2 separate regions of the Homo sapiens genome follow, and region 2 is linked to region 1. Evidence: fine-mapped expression QTL. A gene starts in region 1. The other region holds a variant in brackets. All regions are shown on one strand. Distances are from middle to middle. Region 1 holds the start of COX16 (cytochrome c oxidase assembly factor COX16). Region 2 overlaps LOC101928046 (a long non-coding RNA gene).

What was found. PIP is the estimated chance that this variant, and not a neighbour inherited with it, causes the effect.
Region 2: its variant is fine-mapped to the expression of COX16 in lymphoblastoid cells (GTEx, PIP above 0.99).

Annotation. Positions count from the first base shown.
Region 1 is chr14:70,357,436-70,362,662 of GRCh38, reverse strand. COX16 (cytochrome c oxidase assembly factor COX16) reads left to right here and starts at 2,980. Exons shown (of 4, transcript NM_016468.7): 1 at 2,980-3,144. The coding sequence starts at 3,076. The region is part of intron 3 of SYNJ2BP-COX16 (SYNJ2BP-COX16 readthrough); the gene reads left to right. It also overlaps the pseudogene RNU2-51P. RefSeq lists enhancers at 2,401-2,490, 2,951-3,260.
Region 2 is chr14:70,306,157-70,311,383 of GRCh38, reverse strand. The region is part of intron 4 of LOC101928046 (a long non-coding RNA gene); the gene reads right to left. Among named protein-coding and RNA genes, the nearest start is that of COX16, 51 kb to the left of the region's middle. The variant T/C (reference allele first, on the strand shown) is at 3,304.

The DNA.
Region 1 (5,227 bases):
GTAACTAATCTTTCGATTACCATAGCCATGAATTCTGGCCATAATTCTGCTCTGTTGCCCAGGCTGGAGTGCAGTGGCACCATCTCGGCTCATTGCAGCCTCCACCTCCCGAGTTCAAGTGATTCTCCTGCCTCAGCCTCCCGAGTAGCTGGGATTACAGTCATGCGCCTTCATGCCCGGCTAATTTTTGTAGTTTTAGTAGAGACAGGGTTTCACCATGTTGGCCAGGCTGGTCTCAAACTCCTGACCTCAGGTGATCTGCCCGCCTCGGCCTCCCAAAGTGCTGGGATTACAGGTATGAGCCACTGTGGCTGGCCAGTTCTGGCCATAATTCTAAAACCTAACTTCAGGACTAAAGCTCTCAAGAAGACTGGTGTTTTTGTTTTTGTTTTATAACAACGCTCCCATGTACTTGCATGAGTTAAATGCTGGTAGAGCAGATACTAGAGGATAATATAACCTGCCTGGATATCAAGTACATACCAGTCCTCAGGGACTGGCATAGATGGTGGAGATGCCCCATTTCCTGAATATACATTTTTTGTAACTTCTTACAGTTAAGATAGCTGAGTCAGCATTTTAACTGTTTATTAACAATGGAAACACATGGAATTTGAGTCATATTTCTGGGAAGGCAACAGATTCCATACTGGTAAGAAATTTTGTGTTCCCTTTTTGTGAGAATCGTAAACTGATGACAAATATCACTCATTCCGATTTAACAGATGGAAAAACTGAAGTATACAGTAGTGATGCTTAAGAAGGGCGCTATGCATAGCTGGTAAAATTTACCACCTATGTAGTATGATTTGATAGGTGCTTACATTCCTCAGTGTCACAGATTTTGTCCCCTGACAATCTGCCGGCATACCTGTAATTCCTACTGTTCACAGTTACTCCTTCAGGGCCATTTCAAGGTTCTCAATAAATGCTTATTTGAGTGATTGAACAAACAAGATACTAAAGACATAGAGTGCCTTAAATTGGATAGATGCCTTATCTGAAAAGTGTAAGATTATCGACTCTAGCATTATTTTGAATATATGTATACGATTTAACCCATTATTAGCTACTACTTAGGTGCCGGGTTTTGATGGAGTAGTATCCAGTAGGCTGATGTTTTATGTAGTGAAGATGTAGGAAAACGCTAGAGTTTTAGAGCAGCGCCTTTGGCTTCTAGGATCTTAGGGAAAGTAGGAGATGTGATACGCTTAACTAACCTGGATGCCACGTGAGATTTATTTATTTATTTTTGAAACAGGGTCTAGCTGTGTCACCCAGGCTGCAGTGCAGTGGCATGATCACGGCTCACTGTAGCCTGGACCTCCTGGGCTCAAGTGATCTTCCCACCTCAGCTTCCCAAGTAGCTGAGACCCCACCATGCCTGGCTAATTTATTATTATTATTATTATTTGTAAAGATGGGGTCTTGCTTTGTTGCTCAGGCTGGTCTCGAACTCCTGGGCTCAAATGATCCTCCTGCCTCAGCCTCCCAAACTGCAGGTATTACAGGCATGAGCCACCATGCCTGGTCTGCATGAATTTTGAAATATCAAAAGGAAGTAAATAAGATGGGAGAGATGCACCGTTCCTGGGTTTCTGGAGGTATTGAAATACAGGTTGATGTGTAGAGTGGTGGAGCAAACTCCTATTCCATCTCCTTGCTTCAAAAACCCATTTAACATATTTTCCTTGGATAGAGAATGTGTCAAATATTAAACTGTTAAGAACAGATACTACACTTGATCTTAGCCAAAAGGATAAGTTTCACTGGAGTAGCCTGCAGTAGATCTGGAGCTTCTCTTCTGGAGACCACTTAAGAGGCTACTTTAATAGGTGAAAAGATGATAAGGAATTAAAAAAAGGAACATTTCAGTGGTAACAGAGAGGCAGGGACAGATGGAAATATTTCAGGAATAGCATGGAAGATAATATTCCGCATCACCTGCACTCTGATTCACTCTGGTAAATGGGACACGTGGGGGATCGGCTTCCTAAGCTATCCCAGTACTTCACACATGTTTGTTTCTGTGCCCATGAAATCGCCAGTGTCTTTAAGGTAAGGATCATATATTTTTATCTGTGTTCCTAGAACCCTTTCAAAGACACGCTGAAAGGTGGCCTGTATGGTTGCTGAATCATTGGTAAATAGACATTCATAAATGACTAAAGATTACAGGTTATCTCACAGTAAAATCATTAGCATTAAAAGTTCAGTAATGACTGATGAGACACTACACTGATTACATTTCAACCTAATCTTTCAAAAGCGATTTATTTTTAAAAGTCTCCATTAAACTGGCAAATTCCTCATCCCACAAATAGCCATAAAGACTGGAGTACCAGCTTCAAAATACTTTTTTTTCTTTTTTCTTTTTGAGACGAAGTCTCGCTCTTGTTCCCCAGGCTGGAGTGCGATGGCGCGATCTCTGCTCATTGCAACCTCCGCCTCCCGGGTTCAAGCGATTCTCCTGCCTCGGCCCCCCAGTAGCTGGGATTACAGGCGCCTGCCACCACGCCCGGCTAATTTTTGTATTTTTTTTTTTTAATAGAGACGGGGTTTTACCATGTTGACCAGGCTGATCTAGAACTCCTGACCTCAGGTGATCTACCGGCCTCGGCCTCCCAAAGTGCTGGGATTACAGGCCACCCACCCAGGCCACCGCGCCCGGCCTCAAAATACTTTTTTCCTTAGCTGATTTTATCGAGTGGCTATGTGCCTAAGGGAGTGTTCTAAGCAGACGTTAGTTAGGACCCAGAACGTGGGAAGTACTGGTTTCCAGATCAATTTGGTGGTGATCGTAAACCGATTCAAATCTCTAAATCCCAATTGCACGCCGACGTTACGGAACCAAAAACGCTGACGCCCACATTTCTGGGCGGACGCACAAGTATGTTACGATGGCTCGATTGCTTTTGCCTAGCGGAAACCATTCACTAAGGACCGAGCACCAAATAACCAAGGAAAAGGAAGTGAGTTAAGGACGTACTCGTCTTGGTGAGAGCGTGAGCTGCTGAGATTTGGGAGTCTGCGCTAGGCCCGCTTGGAGTTCTGAGCCGATGGAAGAGTTCACTCATGTTTGCACCCGCGGTGATGCGTGCTTTTCGCAAGAACAAGACTCTCGGCTATGGAGTCCCCATGTTGGTGAGTGGAGTGAGGAGGATCTTCCGCAAGGGGTGGGACCCTCCTCCTTGGCAGGATCAAGACCTGGGAGGGAATCTGTAAAATGTGAAGTTAAGGGCTGGCACTCGGGCTAGGAAGGAGCTAGCGACGGGGTGAGAGCTTTCCTAAAAGCTCTTCCACCAGTCTTTTCCACACCCCCACTTCCCCGCCGCTGTCCCCCACTCCCGGTTGGATTTCAGGTGTACTAGGATCTGTCTGCTTGTGAGCGTGGCGTCTTTCCCATCGTCGAACGCGGTCATTGTTACTACCCTTGATTCACAGTTAAGTAAATTGAAGCTCAGAGAATTCAGTCAGAACCACACTTTAAGCCAAGTTTGGATGATTACTAAGCTTGCTTCCTCGCCCCCAACTTAGCTATGTTTTGACGATACTGTGGATCATTGGGACTAGATGTATTCCATTTAACTGCACGAATTCCTGGTATCTTTCTGTTTCATCTTTCTAGTTTGTGAATTAGCTTAATACTTAGAGTTGTGATGAACTAATAACACCTTGTGAATAAAGTGTTGAGTACGGTGCCTGCCACATTGTAGCCAGAATGATTGCTGTGTTATAATTTCTAAAGCACGTTGAAAACAGCTTCCGTGTTTATATGGTTTCATCCATATCCACACTGAGTTCCCTAAGGATGTCATGAAATGCAGGCTGAGGCTGGCTTAAGACAACCAGAGTTGAAATCCAGATGACTCTTATTTGCTTTTTGATTACGGGCCAGTTATTTTGCTTCAGCAAGCCTTGATGTGTTAGTAAATGAAATAATTAAAGCATATGAACAAAAGCTGCTTTTAAATACAGACTATATTTTTATTTTGTATGAATGTTGGCGCAGATGAAATTACCAGCTTTTCCATTTAAGCAGACTAAAGGAAAGAAGTGATCTTAGAAAGGTAATGGATATTTTACACAGTTTTGAAAAATCCACATTCATCAAATGTGGATTTTAGGAATCTCCAAAAGATTCACCCATTTGAAGTATCTGGGCCAAGCACGATGGCTCACACCTGTAATCCCAGTGTTAGGGGAAGCCAAGACAGGAGGATCGCTTTAGGTCAGGAGTTCCAAACCAGCAAGACCTCTGTCTCTCCAAAAAAAAAAAAAAAAAAAAAAATTGTTGTTTTTAGCAAATTCGATATTAGTATACTAATATATTCGTATATTAGTATATTCTTAGTTATGGAGCCATCACCACAATTTTAGAACATTTTCATTGCCCCCAAAAAAGCATCATAACTAATAGTAGTCACTTCCCATTTCTTCCTGCCTCTTAATGCTGGCCTGGTAAACCACTAATCTACTTCTACCCGTAAATTTGCTTATTCTGCACATTTCATATTAACACACTAATACAACGTGGGTTTTTTGTGACTGGATTCTTCCACTTAGAATGTTTTTAAGGTTCATTCACATTGTAACATATATCAATACTTCATTCCTTTTGATGGATATAATTCCATTGTTTGGATATATTTTATCAATTGATGAACATTTGGGTTGTTTCAATTTTTGACTATTATGAATAATGCTGCTATGAACATTTATGTACACGCTTTGTGTGGAAGTATGTTTTCATTTCTCTCAGGTAGGGAATATACCTAGACGTGGAATTGCTAGGTCATATGGTAACTCTTCAACTTTTTAGGATGTGCCAGATGTTTTCCAAAGTGGCTGCATCATTTTACATTCCCACCAGCAAGATATGATTTTCAATTTCTCCACATCCTTGCCAACACTTGTTATTGTCCATCTTTTGAATTATTACCCTTTCTAGTAGGTGTGAAGTGATACCTCATTGTGGTTTTGATTTTCATTTCCCTAACGACTTATTATGTTGAGCATCTTTTCAAATGTTTATTGGTCATTTGAATATCTTTTTGGAGAAATGTCTGTTCAAATCCTTTGCCCATTTTTTAATTGGACTATGTTTCCTTTTATTGGACAGAGGTTTCTTTAAAACCCAAAACCAACAAATCTGCCAGTCTTTGTCGAGAGGCTCTGCATGCTTTTTTGGGCATGCTTTCAACATTCAGCCATGCAATTTACAGCT
Region 2 (5,227 bases), 51 kb after region 1:
TCTCTTAAAATCGGCCCTCACAATCTCACATGCCCACCTCTTCCACAATAGTCCCTGGGCCTTGTGGAGTTGAACGGCTTTAATTTCTGGGCCTGTGTCTCAAGAAGGTAGTTTATTTTGATTGGCATCTTCTATGGGGCCTGAAGATGAGGCTTTAATTGCTGTCAGTGTTTAAGAGTTAGAAAGGGATGGCCGAATAGGAACTGCTCCAGTCTACAGCTCCCAGTGTGAGTGACACAGAAGATGGGTATTTCTGCATTTCCAACTGAGGTACAAGGTTCATCTCACTGGGACTTGTTGGACAGTGGGTGCAGCCCATGTGAGTGTGAGTCAAAGAAGGGCGGGGTATCGCCTCACCCTGGAAGCACAAGGGTTCGGAGAATTCCCTTTCCTAGCAAAGGGAAGCCGTGACAGACGGTACCTGGAAAATCGGGACACTCCCACCCTAATACTGCGCTTTTCCAATGGTCTTAGCAAACGGCACACCAGGAGATTATATCCCATGCCTGGCTGGGAGGGTCCCATGCCCATGGAGCCTTGCTCACTGCTAACACAGCAGTCTGAGATTGAACTGCAAGGTGGCAGTGAGGCTGAGGGAGGGGCGTCTGCAATTGCTGAGGCTTGACTAGGTAAACAAAGCGGCCGGGAAGCTTGAACTGGGTGGAGCCCACTGCAGCTCTAGGAGGCCTGCCTGCCTCTGTAGACTCCACCTCTGGGGTCAGGGCACAGCTGAACAAAAGGCAGCAGAAACTTCTGCAGACTTAAACGTCCCTGTCTGACAGCTTTGAAGAGAGTAGTGGTTCTCCCAGCACGGAGTTTGAGATTTGAGAACTGACAGACTGCCTCCTCAAGTGGGTCCCTGACCCCCGAATAGCCTAACTGGGAGACAACTCCCAGTAGGGGCCGACTGACACCTCATACAGCCGGGTGCCCCTCTGAGACGAAGCTTCTAGAGGAAGGATCAGGCAGCAACATTTGCTGTTCTGCAATATTTGCTGTTCTGCAGCCTCCGCTAGTGATACCCCAGCAAACAGGGTCTGGAGAGGACCTCCAGCAAACTCCAACAGACCTGCAGCTGAGGGTCCTGACTGTTAGAAGGAAAACTAACAAACAGAAAGGAATAGGATCAACATCAATAAAAAGGACATCCACACCAAAACCCCATCTGTAGGTCACCATCATCAAAGACCAAAGGTAGATAAAACCACAAAGATGGGGAGAAACCAGAGCAGAAAAGCTGAAAATTCTAAAAGTCAGAGCACCTCTTCTCCTCCAAAAGAATGCAGCTCCTCACCAGCAATGGAACAAAGCTGGACGGAGAATGACTTTGACAAGTTGACAGAAGTAGGCTTCAAAAGATCAGTAAGTAAAACAAACTTCTCTGAGCTAAAGGAGGATGTTCAAACCCATCGCAAAGAAGCTAAAAACATTGAAAAAAGATTAGACAAATGGATAACTAGAATAAACAGCGTAGCGAAGACCTTAAATGACCTGATGGAGCTGAAAACCATGGCACAAGAACTACATGATGCACGCATAAGCTTCAGCAGCCGATTTGATCAAATGGAAGAAAGGGTATCAGTGACTGAAGATCAAATGAATGAAATGAAGTGAGAAGAGAAGTTTAGAGAAAAAAAGAGTTAAAAGAAACGAACAAATCCTCCAAGAAATATGGGACTATGTGAAAAGACCAAATCTTCGTCTGATTGGTGTACCTGAAAGTGACGGGGAGAACCAAGTTGGAAAACGCTCTTCAGGATATTATCGAGGAGAACTTCCCCAACCTAGCAAGGCAGGCCAACATTGAAATTCAGGAAATACAGAGAATGCCATAAAGATACTCCTTGAGAAGAGCAACCCCAAGACACATAATTGTCAGATTCACCAAGGTTGAAATGACAGAAAAAATGTTAAGGGCAGCCAGAGAGAAAGGTCGCGTTACCCACAAAGGGAAGCCCATCAGACTAACAGCGGACCTCTCAGCAGAAACTCTATAAGCCAGAAGAGAGTGGGGGCCAATATTCAACATTCTTAAAGAAAATAATTTTCAACCCAGAATTTCATATCCAGCCAAACTTCATAGGTGAAGGAGAAATAAAATCCTTTACAGACAAGCAAATGCTGAGGGATTTTGTCACCACCAGCCTTACAAGAGCTCCTGAAGGAAACACTAAACATGAAAAAGAACTGGTACCAGCCACTGGAAAAACATGCCAAATTGTAAAGACCATTGATGCTAGGAAGAAACTGCATCAACTAACAAGCAAAATAACCAGCTAACATCATAATGACAGGATCAAATTCACATATAACAATATTAACCTTAAATGTAAATGGGCTAAATGCCCCCAATTAAAAGACACAGACTGGCAAATTCGATAATGAGTCAAGACGCATCATCAGTGTGCTGTATTCAGGAGACCCATCTCATGTGCAGAGACACACATAGGCTCAAAATAAAGGGATGGAGGAAGATCTACCAAGCAAATGGAAAGCAAAAGAAAAGCAGGGGTTGCAATCCCAGTCTCTGATAAAACAGACTTTAAGCCAACAAAGATCAAAAGAGACAAAGAAGGCCATTACATAATGGTAAAGGGATCAATTCAACAAGAAGAGATAACTATCCTAAATATATATGCACCCAATACAGGAGCACCCAGCTTCATAAAGCAAGTCCTTAGAGACCTACAAAGAGACTTAGACTTCCACACAATAATAATAGGAGACTTTAACACTCCACTGTCAACATTAGACAGATCAATGAGACAGAAAGTTAACAAGGATATCCAGGACTTTAACTCAGCTCTGCACCAAGCAGACCTAATAGACTTCTACAGAACTCTCCACCCCAAATCAACAGAATATACATTCTTCTCCGCACCACATGGCACTTATTCCAAAATTGACCACATAGTTGGAAGTAAAGCGCTCCTCAACAAATGTAAAAGAACAGAAATTATAACAAACTGTCTCTCAGACCACAGTGCAATCAAATTAGAACTCAGGATTAAGAAACTCACTCAAAACCACTCAACTACATGGAAACTGAACAACCTGCTCCTGAATGGCTATTGAGTAAATAACTAAGTGAAAGCAGAAATAAAGATGTTCTTTGAAACCAATGAGAACAAAGACATGACGTACCAGAATCTCTGGGACACATTTAAAGTAGTGTGTAGAGGGAAATTTATAGCACTAAATGCCCACAAGAGAAAGCAGGAAAGATCTAAAATTGACACCCTAAAATCACAATGAAAAGAACTAGAGAAGCAAGAGCAAACACATTCAAAAGCTAGCAGAAGG[T/C]AAGAAATAACTAAGATCAGAGCCAGAACTGAAGGAGATAGAGACATGAAAAACCCTTCAAAAAATCAATGAATCTAGGAGCTGGTTTTTTGAAAAGATCAACAAAATTGATAGACCACTAGCAAGACTAATACAGAAGAAAAGAGAGAAGAATCAAATAGACTCAATAAAAAATGATAAAGGGGATGTCACCACCAATCCCACAGAAATACAAATGACCATCAGAGAATACTATAAACACCTCTGTGCAAATAAACTAGAAAATCTACCTTCCTGGACACATACACCCTCCCAAGACTAAACCAGGAAGAAGTTGAATCCCTGAATAGATCAATAACAGGCTCTGAAATTGAGGTAATAATTAATAGCCTACCAACCAAAAAAAGTCCAGGACCAGATGGATTCACAGCCGAATTCTACCAGAGGTACAAAGAGGAGCTGGTACCATTCCTTCTGAAACTATTCCAATCAATAGAAAACAAGGGAATTCTCCCTAACTCATTTTATGAGGCCAGCATCATCCTGATACCATAGCCTGGCAGAGACACAACAAAAAAAGAGAATTATAGACCAATATCCCTGATGAACATTGAAGTGAAAATGCTCAATAAAATACTAGCAAACTGAATCCAGCAGCACATCAAAAAGCTTATCCATCATGATCAAGTTGGCTTCATCCCTGGGATGCATGGCTGGTTTAACATATGCAAATCAATAAACGTAATCCATTATATAAACAGAACCAAAGACAAAAACCACATGATTGGGGCTGGGAGCGGTGGCTCACACCTGTAGTCCCAACACTTTGGGAGGCCAAGGTGGGCAGATCACGAGGTCAGGAGATTGAGACCATCCTGGCTAACATGGTGAAACCCCATCTCTACTAAAAATACAAAAAATTAGCTGGGTGTGGTGGTGGGTGCCTGTAGTTGCAGCTACTCGGGAGGCTGAGGCAGGAGAATGGCGTGAACCTGGGAGGCGGAGCTTGCAGTGAGCCAAGATCGCGCCACTGCACTCCAGCCTGGGCAACAAAGCGAGACTCTGTCTCAAAAACAAAAACCAAAAAAAAGCCCCACATGATTATCTCAATAGATGCAGAAAAAGCATTCAACAGCCCTTCATGCTAAAAACTCTCAATAAACTAGGTATTGATGGGACGTATCTCAAAATAATAAGAGCTATTTATGACAAACCCACAGCCAATATCATACTGAATGGGCAAAAACTGGAAGCATTCCCTTTGAAAACTGGCACAAGACAGGGATGCCCTCTCTCACCACTCCTATTCAACATAGTGTTGGAAGTTCTGACCAGGGCAATCAGGCAGGAGAAAGAAATAAAGGGTATTCAGTTAGGAAAAGAGGAAATCAAATTGTCCCTGATTGCAGATGACATGATTGTATATTTAGAAAACCCCATCGTCTTAGCCCAAAATCTCCTTAAGCTGATAAGTAACTTTAGCAAAGTCTCAGGATACAAAATCAATGTGAAAAAATCACAAGCATTCCTATACACCAATAAGAGACAAACAGAGAGCCAAATCATGAGTGAACTCCCATTCACTATTACTTCAAAGAGAATACCTAGGAATCCAACTTACAAGGGACGTGAAGGACCTCTTCAAGGAGAACTACAAACCACTGCTCAACAAAATAAAAGAGGACACAAACAAATAGAAGAACATTCCATGCTCACAGATAGGAAGAGTCAGTATCATGAAAATGGCCATGCTGCCCAAGATAATTTATAGATTCAATGCCATCCCCATCAAGCTACCAATGACTTTTTTCACAGAATTGAAAAAAACTACTTTAAAGTTCATATGGAACCAAAAAAGAGCCCACATTGCCAAGGAAATCATAAGCCAGAAGAACAAGGCTGGAGGCATCATGCCACCTGACTTCAAACTATACTACAAGGCTAC